4 linked regions of the Homo sapiens genome follow. The protein of the gene in region 3 purifies or fractionates together with the protein of the main gene of each other region. This does not show direct contact. Each region holds a gene or a part of one and is shown on either strand. Other genes may lie near its edges.

Region 1 (3,621 bases), on a different chromosome or scaffold from region 3:
GCTGCCCAACTTCAGCGAGTGCTGGTGGGATCACGTAGGTGCCAGCACAGCCCCCGGGGCAGTCGGTGCAGGCTGAGGGGCATTCTCGGAACCCCTGTGCCCAGCGCGGCCCCTGGACCCCCTCATTCTCCCCGGGGGGCAGTGGGTGCAGGCTGAGGGGCATTCTCGGTTCCCCTGTGCTCTTCCGGGGTCCTCCTCGGGGGGCTCGTTACCCCTCACCCCTGCAACGAGTGCTGGCCCCTCCCTGCAGTGGATCATGGACGTGCTCGTCTGCAACGGGCTGGGCATCTACTGCGGCATGAAGACCCTTGAGTGGCTGTCCCTGAAGACGTACAAGTGGCAGGGCCTCTGGAACATTCCGACCTACAAGTACGTCGTGGGGGCTGCGAGGGCAGGGCCGGGTGGGGGTTACCTGGAGGCAGCCTCAGCGTCCGTGCTCCAGCAGACCCCGAGCACCAGGCCCGTCCAGTGTGCGGCTCAGGAGGGGTGACCGTGGGGCTTTGCCTCCTGGAACCTCCCTCTGACCTGGTGTCACTCAAGCCCGGCCGCCCCTCACAGTGGCCATGGCGTCTGACCCACGTACCTCCCTCCTCAATCCCTGGCCGGCCTGGCGCAGGGGCTGTGGGATCATTCCGTGCTTCTCCCTCCCTTGGTTGCTTTGGTTATGAAATAGTTGCAGGTACTTTGTCATTATGACTTTGGAATTTAAAAAAGAAACAGAAGTCTAAGGAAAGGCCTGGGGGACGGGGGTCTCCCCTCCTGCCTGTGGGTGCCCCGGCTCTGCCTGGCTCTGCAGACATGGCTAGCTCACGGCACCGTGGAGCGCCCTCTGAGGCGCTGCAGCCACTGCTCAAGCTGGAAGAGACTGAACAGCAGAGGGCCGTGGAGAAGCAGGGCTTGTAGCTGGGTGGCCAGACCTCGGAGAACAGCCGGGCAGCAGCTGGGTAACCAGGAACAGAGTCTGTGGCCCGATGGCACAGGGCGGGGCGGGGTGACCAAGAGCAGAGCTCGTCCGATGGCACAGGGCGGGGCCGGGTGACCAGGAACAGTCTGTTGCCCGATGGCACAGGGCAGGGTTCGGTGGGCTGCCTTCCTCAGGCTGCCGGCTCTGTGGTTCCCAGGGGCAAGATGAAGAGGATCGCCTTCCAGTTCACGCCGTACAGCTGGGTTCGCTTCGAGTGGAAGCCGGCCTCCAGCCTGCGTCGCTGGCTGGCCGTGTGCGGCATCATCCTGGTGGTAAGGCCGGGCTGCCTCGCGACGGCGCGGCGGGCGGGGGGCCAGAGCTGGTGCTCACCCTCTCCTCCCCTAGTTCCTGTTGGCAGAACTGAACACGTTCTACCTGAAGTTTGTGCTGTGGATGCCCCCGGAGCACTACCTGGTCCTCCTGCGGCTCGTCTTCTTCGTGAACGTGGGTGGCGTGGCCATGCGTGAGATCTACGACTTCATGGATGACCCGTGAGGGCTGCGGCAGTCCGGGTGGAGACACCCCCGGGGGGCAGGGGCCGGAGGGCTGGGGAGCAGAGCCTGGGAGGCCGGAGCCTGGGCAAGTCCGCCTGGAGGACCCTGCGGGGCCCGGGACGCTGAACCCCCTGCTGCCCCTGCAGGAAGCCCCACAAGAAGCTGGGCCCGCAGGCCTGGCTGGTGGCGGCCATCACGGCCACGGAGCTGCTCATCGTGGTGAAGTACGACCCCCACACGCTCACCCTGTCCCTGCCCTTCTACATCTCCCAGTGCTGGACCCTCGGCTCCGTCCTGGCGCTCACCTGGACCGTCTGGCGCTTCTTCCTGCGGTGAGTCAGGGCAGGGCGCGTATGTTCTGAAGGAGGGCCGCTGTCCGGGTCCCTTGGCACAGGCACTGTGGGAGTTTGGTGTCGTTGGTGTCTCACTGTCCCTGCTTCAACCCTCTGGCCGCCTCTGCGGGAGGCGCCTTTCCTGACCCAGCCCTCGGGGCCTTCGCTCTGCACTGACAGATCCAGGCTCCTCAGGGCTCCAGTCTGCCACGGCTGCCGTCCCAGGGCCAGGGTACCCGGCACCCACCCAGTCCATTCCGGACCTCCACAGGGACTAGGTGCCAGCTGTCCATGGGGCCTGCAGTGGGGCTGGTGTGGGGGCAGGTGGTGACGCTGCATCCCGCTCCCCAGGGACATCACATTGAGGTACAAGGAGACCCGGTGGCAGAAGTGGCAGAACAAGGATGACCAGGGCAGCACCGTCGGCAACGGGGACCAGCACCCACTGGGGCTGGACGAAGACCTGCTGGGGCCTGGGGTGGCCGAGGGCGAGGGAGCACCAACTCCAAACTGACCTGGGCCGTGGCTGCCTCGTGAGCCTCCCAGAGCCCAGGCCTCCGTGGCCTCCTCCTGTGTGAGTCCCACCAGGAGCCACGTGCCCGGCCTTGCCCTCAAGGTTTTTTGCTTTTCTCCTGTGCACCTGGCGAGGCTGAAGGCGAGGGGTGGAGGAGGCCCCAGCACAGCCTCATCTCCATGTGTACACGTGTGTACGTGTGTATGCGTGTGTGTACGCGTGTGTACGCGCGTGTGTACACATGCGTGGCCGCCTGTGGTGTGCACGTGTGCTCTGGGCTCCGAGGCTTCTCCAGAGCTGGGAGCTGGCTGGCGTGGCAAGGGCATGCTCTGGGGCAGTGTGTCCCTCAGGAACCAGGGTCCTCCCTCCCCTTTCTGCCTGGTCAGCCCCGTGGCCTCTGGCCCACCAAGCTCCCTGTCACCCAGCCATGGTGTGGTCCAGGCAGGGACATCTCGGTACCCTTTCTGCACTCCGTGGGCCCTGGGTGCGCTGAGGCCTGGAGGCGTCTACACTGGCTCCACATCCACTTCCCCCGCAGCTCGTGTGGGCGCTCGTCCACAAACACTCCGTGGCTGAGAGGCAGCGGATCCAGGCAGCGATGCTGAGCCACCTCCTCCGAGCCTTCCTTTCACACAGACCACCCCGGAGGACACGTGGATGATGGGGTCAGAGATCACTGAGCTGCCCCTCAAGGGGGCCTGGAACCCGGGTGCTGGGGTCATGCTGCCTCCGTGGCTCCAAGGTGAGGGTCATCTTCACGAGCAAAGAGAACCAATAAAGTGACAACGAACGTCTGAGGCTTCCAGCCCTCCCCCCAGCTCCCCGTGTCCTGCTTTGGGGTCCAGTGCAGCCCTCCAGCCTGCCCTCATGCCCAGTGCCCACTTGGGGAAAACCACACAGAGGACAGGAGGCACTCAGCCTCTGCACCTGAGCAAAGACTTGGCGCCTGCCCCGCCCCACCCCCCAGAGAGAGCAGGTGCCAGATGCAGCCCCTCTCCCATTCTCCAGGAGGGTCCAGGTGGCACCCACCCTCTGCTGCGCTTGTCCAAGGGCTGGCGGCCACTGGGCAGTGGACACAGGATTCCTGGGGTACTGTGTTTGTCCCAGGCTGGCAGACACTGGGCAGTGGACACAGGATTCCTGGGGTGCTGTGTTTGTCCCAGGCTGGCAGACACTGGGCAGTGGACACAGGATTCCTGGGGTGCTGTGTTTGTCCCAGGCTGGCAGACACTGGGCAGTGGACACAGGATTCCTGGGGTGCTGTGTTTGTCCCAGGCTGGCAGACACTGGGCAGTGGACACAGGATTCCTGGGGTGC
Region 2 (3,500 bases), on a different chromosome or scaffold from region 3:
CTTTGTTGTGGTATAAGTTGTTTCATAGAATATGAAATTTGAAAATTTGAGTAGTATTTGGTAATGTTCAGAGTTTTAAGCCTTTTGAGTTGTAATAAGTATTTGTTAAATCAGTTTACCATTACACGAGTTTTACATTGCCTTTGAAGTCGTCAGTAATAGAAAAATAGTGTATGTACTAAACTACACAGTATTTTTTATTATTTCAACAAATATTTCTTGATACTACTGTATGCCAGGTACTAACTACATCAGACAACTGGAATATAGTATGGAATAAAATAGTCAAGTCTCTGCTCTCATAGAGTCTCTGGGGTAAGGGGAGAGGTGTGGAGAGACAATAAATATAAAGAATGTGTATTATATCAGATGAATAAATGCATTGAAGGAAAATATAGCAGGATAAGAGGGTAGAGATTGATGAAAGAAGTTCAATTTTAGATAATTAAGAAAAATGAAAATATTGACAGTTGAAATGGAAACTGTTTACCAATATAAAAAATAGTGAAGAAAATTGTTCATTAAATGTGATTTTTCTATGTGATAGTTCATGTAGGAGTATTTTGTATATAAATTTAAATTTAACCATTTAAAGTACTTAAATTGTCTTTTCTATTATTCTAAATAGTTTTAGTTAAAGATGTTTGTTGATTTGAAGTATTTCATTGGTTCTCCCTTATTTTGTTATTTATTTATTTATTTTGAGACAGAATTTTGCTCTTGTTGCCCAGGCTTCAGTGTAATGGCACGATATCGGCTTACTGCAACCTCTGCCTTCCAGGTTCAAGCGATTCTCCTGCCTCAGCCTACTGAGTAGCTGTGATTACAGGCACCCGCTACCACACCTGGCTAATTTTTGTATTTTTAGTAGAGATGGTGTTTCACCATGTTGGCCCAGGCTGGTCATGAACTCCTGACCTCAGGTGATCCGCCTGCCTTAGCCTCCCGAAGTGCTAGGATTACAGGTGTGAGCCACTGCCCCTTATTTTATTTTGTTGGGTTGATCACACTCTTGATTCTCTGTGTTAGGATATTAATCAATTCCTTGAAATACTGTAGTATGTAGATAAACAAAAGTCTAACATTGATTTTACAAAGGAGAAAAAGTTCATATTGCCTTTGATTAGTAAATTTTTTTAAGTATAGAGAGATATCAAATTTTTCAATTTTAAAATAGAGACTTTAAATCTCTATACTCTAACTTTTTTGAGTAGAGAGATATCAAGTAAACTATTCGCTGATGACTGTATCATAAAATTAAGAATGTTTTCAAATGTATGACTTTAATAGTCATTGATAAATTTTCTGCATATAAAATAGTAGAAAAATTAAAAATGAGAATTTATCAAAGTAAGTTTAAAGATTTATGTAGATAAATGGAAGTGATAAATATATTTTGTAAAGCAGTGAGTAAGAATTTCATGAAAGTTGAGTTGTTAGGTGAAATTAACACAAAAGAAAAATACTATTTCAAAAAACAAAAGGTTACTTTTAAATGGTCTCTTTCCGTTTTTTCCTTCCTCTCTTTTAGAAAATCTTAAATTATAGAGGATGAATAATCTTAGTAAAATGTATTTTACTAAGTATCTAATTTCCTAGGATTTAGTTAACAGCTTATTTGCATAAACTATTCTGTTAGGACTTATAATATTAAGAAACAAACTCCAGATGACACTGTATTAAAACTGTTCACATCTAAAATAAGAACTTCTTAATTTGTAATATTGTAAGAACTAATAATTTTTGTTAAGTTTTTGAAAATACAAGGTACGTGAAATTTTTTAAGTGTGCTTTAAAAATAAAATATAAGTACTTGAGGATAGGAATTACCCTTTTAATCTTATTCATAGTCCAATGTGAAGCATGACATTTCTCCAAAGAGTTGATTAATGTATTAATGTACTAATAAATATTCAGATGAAATTTCCAAATGTCATTTCCTGTGTTAATGATGCATTTTAACCTTCTTTTTACTTTATAGATATGGTCCAGACCTGTACATGAATAACTTTGGTTAGTCAGAGTGAAATATTCAATAATGAGTGGTGCAGCTTTGGGACTTGAGATTGTTTTTGTCTTTTTTCTGGCATTATTTCTGCTTCATCGATATGGAGACTTTAAGAAACAGCATAGACTTGTGATTATTGGAACACTGCTTGCTTGGTATCTCTGCTTTCTTATTGTCTTCATACTGCCTCTGGATGTTAGTACGGTAAGGAGTGAAATTTATTTTCACAATTTAAAAGACAAATTTTAATCATACAGCATGTTGGAAATAATGTTATTTCTTAAGACAGCTAAGTTATGTCAGTTTTGAATTAAAAGATTATATGGCCATTTGATCATTAAAAAGCATAGCCAAGGGCCGGGCGTGGTGGCTCACGCCTGTAATTTTAGCACTTTGGGAGGCCCAGACTGGCGGATCACAAGGTCAGGAGATCGAGACTATCCTGGCTAACACGGTGAAACACCGTCTCTACTAAAAATACAAAAAAAATAGCCGGACGTGGTGGCGGACGCCTGTAGTCCCAGCTACTCGGGAGGCTGAGGCAGGAGAATGGCGTGAATCCGGGAGGCGGAGCTTGCAGTAAGCCGAGATCGCGCCACTGCACTCCAGCCTGGGCGACAGAGTGAGACTCTGTCTCACACAAAAAGAAAAAAAAAAAAAAAAGAATAAAGCATAGCCAAGAAGGTAAGTTTAGATAGATAGATTTATAAACTCTGATGTCCTTTAAGTACTTGGTAACCTTTTGATTCTCATTTTTAAACCATACATTCGTTGCTTTAGACAATATACAACCGGTGCAAGCATGCTGCTGCAAATTCAAGCCCTCCTGAGAATAGCAACATTACAGGATTGTACGCAACTGCTAACCCTGTTCCAAGGTATTTCCTTTTTTAAAAAAAATATATAAACATTGTAGGGGACACATTGTTTAAAAATTGAAAGTTTTTACCATCCAGACTTTATATTTATGTAAGTTATCCTCATTCTCTACTAATTCTCCCCACCTCTATTCTTTCCTAGTAGACTTTTCATTACATCATATTCTAATTAAATCTAATTTTTAATATTTATTGGTCCACAAAGCCCTTCAGTAGACGGTAGTGAGAAACTTGAAGAAGTCCTGATTTTTTAGTCCTGGTTCTTCTTTACCAAGTATGTAATTTCTAAAACCTGTTTTTCCTCTCAGCCTATCTCAGATTTAAAAACGTGGGATGTATTTTCACTTTTGCCTAATTTACAAGGTTATAATAAAGACAAGTATTTCTGAACTTATGGTATTCCTTTCATATTGCACATCCTTCAAAAGCATTATAGATTTACATAAAAAATTAATAAAGTTCAAATTGTCCAAAGATTATATTGAATTCATATCGAACTTTTAAGTAAAAAGCTTATATATGTTGACTATAGCCTTTATGAATGCTTTCAGTAGTATTTGCATGCTTCTTTATGCATATTTTTAAAAAATCTAACTTCAGAAAAGGTAAATTTA
Region 3 (3,393 bases):
CTTGCTGCACCGTAACTGGCCCCTTCAGACTCACATGGGAACAAGCCTTTTCTGTTGCAGTTTCCCAGATATCTTTAAATGTTTTGAAATGTATATTTTTATGTTGCAAAACAGAAAAAAGAAACGAGTTAGGGAAAAAGTATTTCTATTTAAGGTATTTATTTTTTCATTCTACCTATGCCATAGATTTCTGAATCAAGACTTAGGACATTTGCTGATTAACAATGTTTAAATTAGGAATTGTTATAAGAATTAAAATAGGCAGAACAAGTTGTGAAAATATTGAACCAAAAAAAGGCCATGCTATCATCTTAGAGGGCCCATGAATAAACCTTAGAGGGAATCCTAAGGCTTTAGGAAACCGCTGCAGCTTGTCTGTCATTTTCCAATATGTTAATTATTATACTTAGTGTACAGTATTTAGAATACAAAATGCTTTTTTATTTTTTAGGAAAATAATGTTATAAATGATTGTATATTTTCATAGTAATGTCTTTATAATTATTTATTAATGATAGAGCTGAATTAGAAAAGCTCTTCATCCATTATAATATGGTTTCTCATGAAAAACTTATTACAAATTTCAGCCAACTCAGATATTAAGAACATCAGTGTCAATCCTCCTCCCCTCCTGCGACCTTTTTACACTTGTTTTGGTGGACTAGGGGCTCCTTTTCTCCTCCTTTTTGACATATAACTGTGCCATTAAAAACATGATTTCTGATGAAGCTGGCCTAGAGGGAATGAAGGAGATTGCGTGGGTATGGTCTCTAGGACAGGCGTAGCTGTTGCAGGGCCACCCTGTCCTTGGGAGAACCTGGTGAGCTCCCATATTCACACTAGATGCCATCATGTCAGGGGGCTGAAGAGAATGGAGCTAATCAACTCTGTCATTTGGAGAAGACCCCCTTCAGACCAGTTCTGAGAACTCCTTCTTTTAAGAGACCAGAGATAACTTGATCATTTCTCACCTTTTCGTAGTTGTTCTTTTTTATGTTGACATTCCCCTTACTGTTTTTAAAATGCTTCAAAGCATTAATGATTGTTATGCTGTGTGCTTTCAGTACTATGGCAATATCTTTGTAGCATTTTCCCATTTCTGTATAAGCATGGTTTTTTGTTTTTTTTTTTTTCGTTTTTGTTTTGAGACAGGGTCTCACTCTTGTTCAGGCTAGAATGCAGTGGCACCATCTCAGCTCACTGCAACCTCTGCCTCCTGGGCTCAAGTGATCCTGCCACCTCAGCCTCCTGAGTAGCTGAGACTACAGGCACATGCCCCCACACCTAGCTAATTTTAAAATATTTTTTGATGGAGACAGGGTTTCACTATGTTTTCCAGGCAGCAGCATTTTTTTTTGACTGGGATTTCTTTATGATGCTTTGTTATTTAAAAAAAAAATGAGAAGGAAACATTAATAATCAAAATTATCTTTAATTGGCCTCACAGGGCTAAAATCTAGAATTATTATTACTCTTGGGTAAACTCATGAAAAGTACTTAATATTCATTCTATAAAGAAACAAAAAGAACCTTTGAGATGTGTCTCTTATTCATTTCCTTGGGTACACTTAAAACGGGTTACAGTTACTGCTCAACTTTCTACCTTCAGAACTGCAGCATTTATTTGCCACACAGCAGCATTTATCAGAGATTGTCCCTTAGAACATTGGTTCCTTGTAATACAAATAAATGTCATAATAAAAATAGTTTCTTTTTTCTTTCTTTCTTTTTTTTTCAAGACAGACTCTGGCTCTCTCGCCAAGGCTGGAATGCAGTGGCGCAATGTCAGCTCACTGCAAGCTCCGCCTCCCTGGTTCAAGCGATTCTTCTGCCTCAGCCTCCTGAGTAGCTGGGATTACAGGTGCCCACCACCACGTCTGGCTAATTTTCATATTTTTAGTACTGACAAGGTTTCACCATGTTTGTCAGGCTCATCTTGAACTCCTGACCTCAAGCAGTTCACCCGCCTCGGCCTCCCAAAGTGCTGGGATTACAGGCGTGAGCTGCCTCACCCAGCTGAAAAGAGTTTCTTAATTAAATATATTTGAGAAACATCTAGTCAAACCACCTTAAATAGGTATATTTACATTAGTTCTAAGGGAATTTAACTTGTGATGTACGTTGTGAAGGGAGGAAGATAGCATTATGCCAAAAGTTTCCACTAGCTTGACAGCAGACCCTGTCTTAGAGTTTTCTTCCTGATTGGTAAACATAAGAAATGTTTCCAAAGCCGGGCTTGGTGGCTCACCCCTGTAATTCCAGCACTTTGGGAGGCCGAGGTGGGTGGATCACTTGAGGTCAGGAGTTCGAGACCAGTCTGGCCAAGATGGCAAAACCCCATCTCTACTAAACACACACACACACACACACACACACACACACACACACACACACACACACACACACACACACACACCCGGCGGGGTGGTAGGCTCCTGTAATCCTTGCTACTCAGGAGCCTGAGGCATGAGAATTGCTTGAACCTGGGAGGTGGAATTTGCAATGAGCCGAGATGGTGCCACTCTGGGCGACAAAGTGAGACTCTGCCTCAAAAAGAAATGTCTCCATATAATTTTGCACTAAAACCTTAATTTGTCATAGTTTTGAAAATAGGGTGTTGTATGTTGATTGAATTTTTTTCCCTGAGAACTGGAATACCATTTTTACTTTAACCCTTAATGTGAGAAAACTTTACAATTTCCTGCAATTTTTCCTGCCTCTGTATATATTACACCTGTCATCATTTAGTCTTTCATGTGGGAAAGGCCAGTGGTACCAGATTGCATTCGGTTCATCATGGCTCATTGTCTAGCCCTGCTAGAGTATAGACTAAGCCTTCATACCTTATGTTTTATATCTTTTACCTGAAAAATAAATTTGCACCAAATTTCAACTTGTTTTCTTATGATTTGACAGTGTAGAAAGTGATTAGTAGTTAAATTTTTATAATGCTTTGTTATTTAAAAAAACTATGAAAAGAAAACATCAGTTATCAAAATTTCCTTTAATTGGCCTCAAAGGGCTAAAATCTAAAATTATTATTACTCTTGGGTAAACTCATGAAAAGATAAATTCTTTTTACAGAAGAATTTAATTAGCTTGACTGGTATCAAATACCAATTGCATCAAACATCAGTGATTCCATGAATTTTTTAAAGTTGTTTTTACTTTAAGCAGATAATGTTCAGTGAATTTGACTAATGTGATTAACGAAGGGACCAACACAGGTAATTGTCAATCTTACAGACATAAACTGTTACCTCGAATATCCCTGTATTACTTGAAATTCTAGAAATCGTCTGTCAACATTTTAAAAGCTCCTCTCCTTGCTGATGAGAAGTAATATTCTTAAAGTTAGAAACCATACAATTAAATCCTGATTTGCCTGATACA
Region 4 (3,500 bases), on a different chromosome or scaffold from region 3:
ACCCAAGTGGGTTAGGACCATATCTGTAAGGCACCATATCTGTAAGGCAGCGCAGGCTGCCGCCGTCAGATGATCTCCTTAAGAGTCCGTCTAGGTGGTGGCAGAGCATGGCTGTGGGAGCTTCCATGCCCTTTTGTGGGCAGCTTGGGAGGGCAGCTACTTGTACTCGCCCAAACCCCAATCAGACAGATGCAGGCAAGTAAACAGGGTTCGAAGTCAAAATATGGCTTCTTGTGGACAGAATCTGACCAAGCCCAGGTGGGGCTTTGTTTCTCTTTATTCACATAGTACTTAAAGCTGCCAGACCAGGCTTTTACATGAAAATGACCTAATTTGAAGCCGATAGAGGATTACCATGGAAGTCACTGATCAGATAAAGTGACACATCCATTTTTTCACATCTTCAGAAAACAAGAGCAAAACTGAAGTGACAAGATTTGACCAGAAAGTGTGGGCTGCTGAAAGCAAGACCTAAGTAAGCTTAGTTTCCCAGGCCCAGTGTCTTCCAGTATTATGACAATGACATTAAGTCTTTCACTGGGCCGGGTCCATGATAGACATTCCTTTTGTGAACTTCTTGACTGTAGGAGGTTGGCCAGAGCGTCACCATCTTCAGATGGGCAGAGGGAGGTTGGCTGGCCGCACTGGCTTGTGGTGGCCTGGAGACTGAGTCCGCATCCTGTTACCCCAAAGGCTGGGTTCCTCACTGCTTGGTTGACTGATCTTTCCTTCTGGCCTGCAGAGGCTGGTCCACGGGGACGAGCAGTCTGGTTAGTTTCTGCTGGCAGGCTCCCCACAGTTGCATCTCTTGTCTCTCTGCCTCTGGCATCAAGCTGCTTGCTCTGGCAGCCAGGGACAGTGTCCTCTTGCTCCCAGGAGCCATGCTCTGTAGAAACTGCTGAGACGTGCTCTATGCAGGAGCTTGGCATTTGGAAGCCATGGGAAGGGTCCAGAAACTAATGAACTCAGCAATCCAAACTAATGTCCATGCCTGCAGCTGCTCCTCATTGCCTATTAGACACTCTGTAAAATGTAGCTTCTAAGCAGTTTATACCCATAAACAGCAATATTAGCACTTAATGGGTTCTGCCTGGTGGCTCATCACCAAGGTGACAGAAAAGCTGCATGGGGCCTTCCTCTCCAGTGTGACCTTTGGTGTTTTTAACCTGTCCTCAAGAGTGGCAGAGCTAGTCCTGGGCCCTAGGAGCTGGCCTCGGCCCTAGTTGAAGTGCTGGGGAAGCAAGGATAGGCCTGAGGACCCCTGAACTTGCAGGTGGCACAGGCACTGTGAGGGTCCCGATGAACACCATGCTGGTGACTGGTGTGGCAAAGTCCTGGTGACAGTGGCAGGCTCTGTCATACCCTGCCCTATATCATGAAGGAGTGGGGAGAGAAGGCAAAGAGGAGCTGACTCACTTTTCTTTGTGTGATGATCTTAACGGGAGGTTAAAACTCACTCTTCAGGGGAGTGCGGGCGAGGAGCAGAGGAGGTTGTGGTTAGCGGGGCTCCTCCCAGAACATGGGGCCCAGTCGTTCTCAGTTACGTCTTTCCTATAGTTGGGATTTTGATCACACAGTTTTTTAGTAAAGCCAGGCCATCATCTCCCACATTGGGCTGGCGACATCCTTTCTGGCCCTGCAGGGTGCAGTGTGAACCTATAGAGCAGCATGGGAGCGGGGCTCGGGGAAGTTCTGGAGCTGCAGTGAGCCAGTGAGCTCGAGCCAGCTCTGACAGGCTGATGTGAGGGAAGCCGCTGGGCCGCAGGTGCTTGTTTCTAGGATGTGTGGGACCTGAGTTGGGCTTTGAACAAGGCAGCCCCAGTCCTTGGTGATCAAGGAAATCTGACCTGCCTTTTTCGTCGATGTTCACATTCACCACGAATTTGCAAGCTGCTTTCCTCAATTTCTTTCTGTCCTGAGTGTGAAGAGAAAGTGGAGTTTTCTGTGTGGCGTGGGAGCTGCAGGTGGCTGTGACAGTGATCACTGGATGCCCAGGAAGTCATCTCAGGGTGGATATAATTAATTACGTTTCTAAAATCCCCTTCAGTCGTCTAAAATAACCACCCCTTTGAGAGAAATATCAGTCTTCCTGTTAAGCCCCTCAGATGCTGTCACTGCTTATGAACCATATCCTGCTTGATGGCGCGGTTCTCGGAGAGACTTAATGAGAAGCTTGGCCACAGAGGTGAGCTAACTGTCATCTTCTTCCTGCAGCCTGCCAGGTCAACAGCCACCTCTGGCTCTGCTGTCGCAGTTCTCTAATGGGGGGGAGGGGGACTGTCACAAGTTTTATGTGCTCGCCGTGTTTACACAGGTCACCTGTGTGCTGGCTACCAGCAATGGCCTTAGTGCCTGCAGTGCGGCTGCTCTTGTCTGTCCTGGGGTGCTGTGTGTCCTGCCTGTGTTGAGGGCTCTTCTCTGCTGTGCTGAGGGGACACTGGCTCTGGGACGTGTTCTAGAGTGGCATGACATGGTTCCAGTGGCCAAGTTGAAGTAGTTGTGACCAACATGCATGTAGGAAATAAGGTTAATGTTGGGCCTTGTCTTTAAACGTGGCTTTTTCAGTGTTCAGTCCAAACAGATGCTCATTAAATGGTGGCCAGTTTAGAGGAGACTGCATCAGCCTGACTTCAGCCTTCAGTGTGGACCAGGCTTGCCTTTGAAAACCAGGACAGCCAAGCAGTAGGTGTGCTCAGTTCAGAAGGCAGTACCTAGATTTTTGCATATTTTTCCCCAAAGCCAAGAGCTGTGTCTGTTTCGTCACCATGTTTGCGCAGGGAAGGAGGTGTGAATTGCCTGTCCCACCTTCTCTCTCTTTTTTGCTCTTTAATCCTCTTGACCCAGACACTCAAATTAAGAGTCGCAGACTCATTCAAAGAGACTTTTAAACACTGCCTCAATCTCGTGGGCTGTGCACGTAGATGAGCATGTTAAATGCAGGTCCTGCAACTGGGGGAGGCTTAGACCGCAGCCCATGGCTGGGCTGGTTTGCTCATCTCAGGCCAGTGAGTGGCTCACAGCTCTCATTTTAGAAGCAAGTCAGAACACCTCTGGTGTCTGTCTTGGGTATGGATTGCAGTCTACCTCTCTGCTGCTGTTGGGGTCCACGCCCCACACCCACACCCTGCCCTGGGAGTCCCACCACGGCTCCGTCTCATCTCAGAGGTCTGGACAGCCTCCTGTTGAGCTCTTCCTTCCCAGTGGTTGCTTTTCCCCAGGTTCAGATGAGATAAAGGCTTGTGTCCTTGCTGGGGCTTCCCAGCTGGGCCACGATGTGAGGCCATTCCTTGAGAGCAGTGGCACATCGTGTGCCACGGTGGTGTGCTTTCTCTCTTCCATGGAATATGGGTGATTACACTGTTGCTGGGCATTTAGAGAGCAACGGGGCCATGAGGCAGAACCTGGGGAGGGTGTGTGGCGTCACCTTTCCCACCACCCAGTGTGATGCAGGTTGCGTCACACTGTGCACATGGGCATCTTGTGCTGGTTCTCTGCATTGG

The links.
Region 1: the proteins of PIGN (region 3) and PTDSS2 purify together in Homo sapiens (affinity purification with mass spectrometry; one large-scale study listed by BioGRID and IntAct). This does not show direct contact.
Region 2: the proteins of PIGN (region 3) and LMBRD2 purify together in Homo sapiens (affinity purification with mass spectrometry; one large-scale study listed by BioGRID and IntAct). This does not show direct contact.
Region 4: the proteins of PIGN (region 3) and SURF4 purify together in Homo sapiens (affinity purification with mass spectrometry; one large-scale study listed by BioGRID and IntAct). This does not show direct contact.

The regions. Positions count from the first base shown.
Region 1 is NC_000011.10:488,279-491,899, forward strand, and holds the end of PTDSS2 (phosphatidylserine synthase 2), read left to right. Parts: coding exon 1-34; intron 35-250; coding exon 251-369; intron 370-1,121; coding exon 1,122-1,236; intron 1,237-1,309; coding exon 1,310-1,455; intron 1,456-1,604; coding exon 1,605-1,790; intron 1,791-2,141; coding exon 2,142-2,304; 3' UTR 2,305-3,121; downstream 3,122-3,621. UniProt on the Homo sapiens protein: Catalyzes a base-exchange reaction in which the polar head group of phosphatidylethanolamine (PE) or phosphatidylcholine (PC) is replaced by L-serine. Catalyzes the conversion of phosphatatidylethanolamine and does not act on phosphatidylcholine.
Region 2 is NC_000005.10:36,141,888-36,145,387, reverse strand, and holds part of LMBRD2 (G-protein coupled receptor-associated protein LMBRD2), read left to right. Parts: intron 1-1,981; 5' UTR 1,982-2,038; coding exon 2,039-2,212; intron 2,213-2,788; coding exon 2,789-2,886; intron 2,887-3,500. UniProt on the Homo sapiens protein: Recruited to ligand-activated beta-2 adrenergic receptor/ADRB2, it negatively regulates the adrenergic receptor signaling pathway. May also regulate other G-protein coupled receptors including type-1 angiotensin II receptor/AGTR1.
Region 3 is NC_000018.10:62,040,664-62,044,056, reverse strand, and holds the end of PIGN (GPI ethanolamine phosphate transferase 1), read left to right. Parts: 3' UTR 1-2,893; downstream 2,894-3,393.
Region 4 is NC_000009.12:133,369,561-133,373,060, reverse strand, and holds part of SURF4 (surfeit locus protein 4), read left to right. Parts: exon of another isoform or gene 1-2,139; coding exon of another isoform or gene 2,140-2,185; intron 2,186-3,500. UniProt on the Homo sapiens protein: Endoplasmic reticulum cargo receptor that mediates the export of lipoproteins by recruiting cargos into COPII vesicles to facilitate their secretion.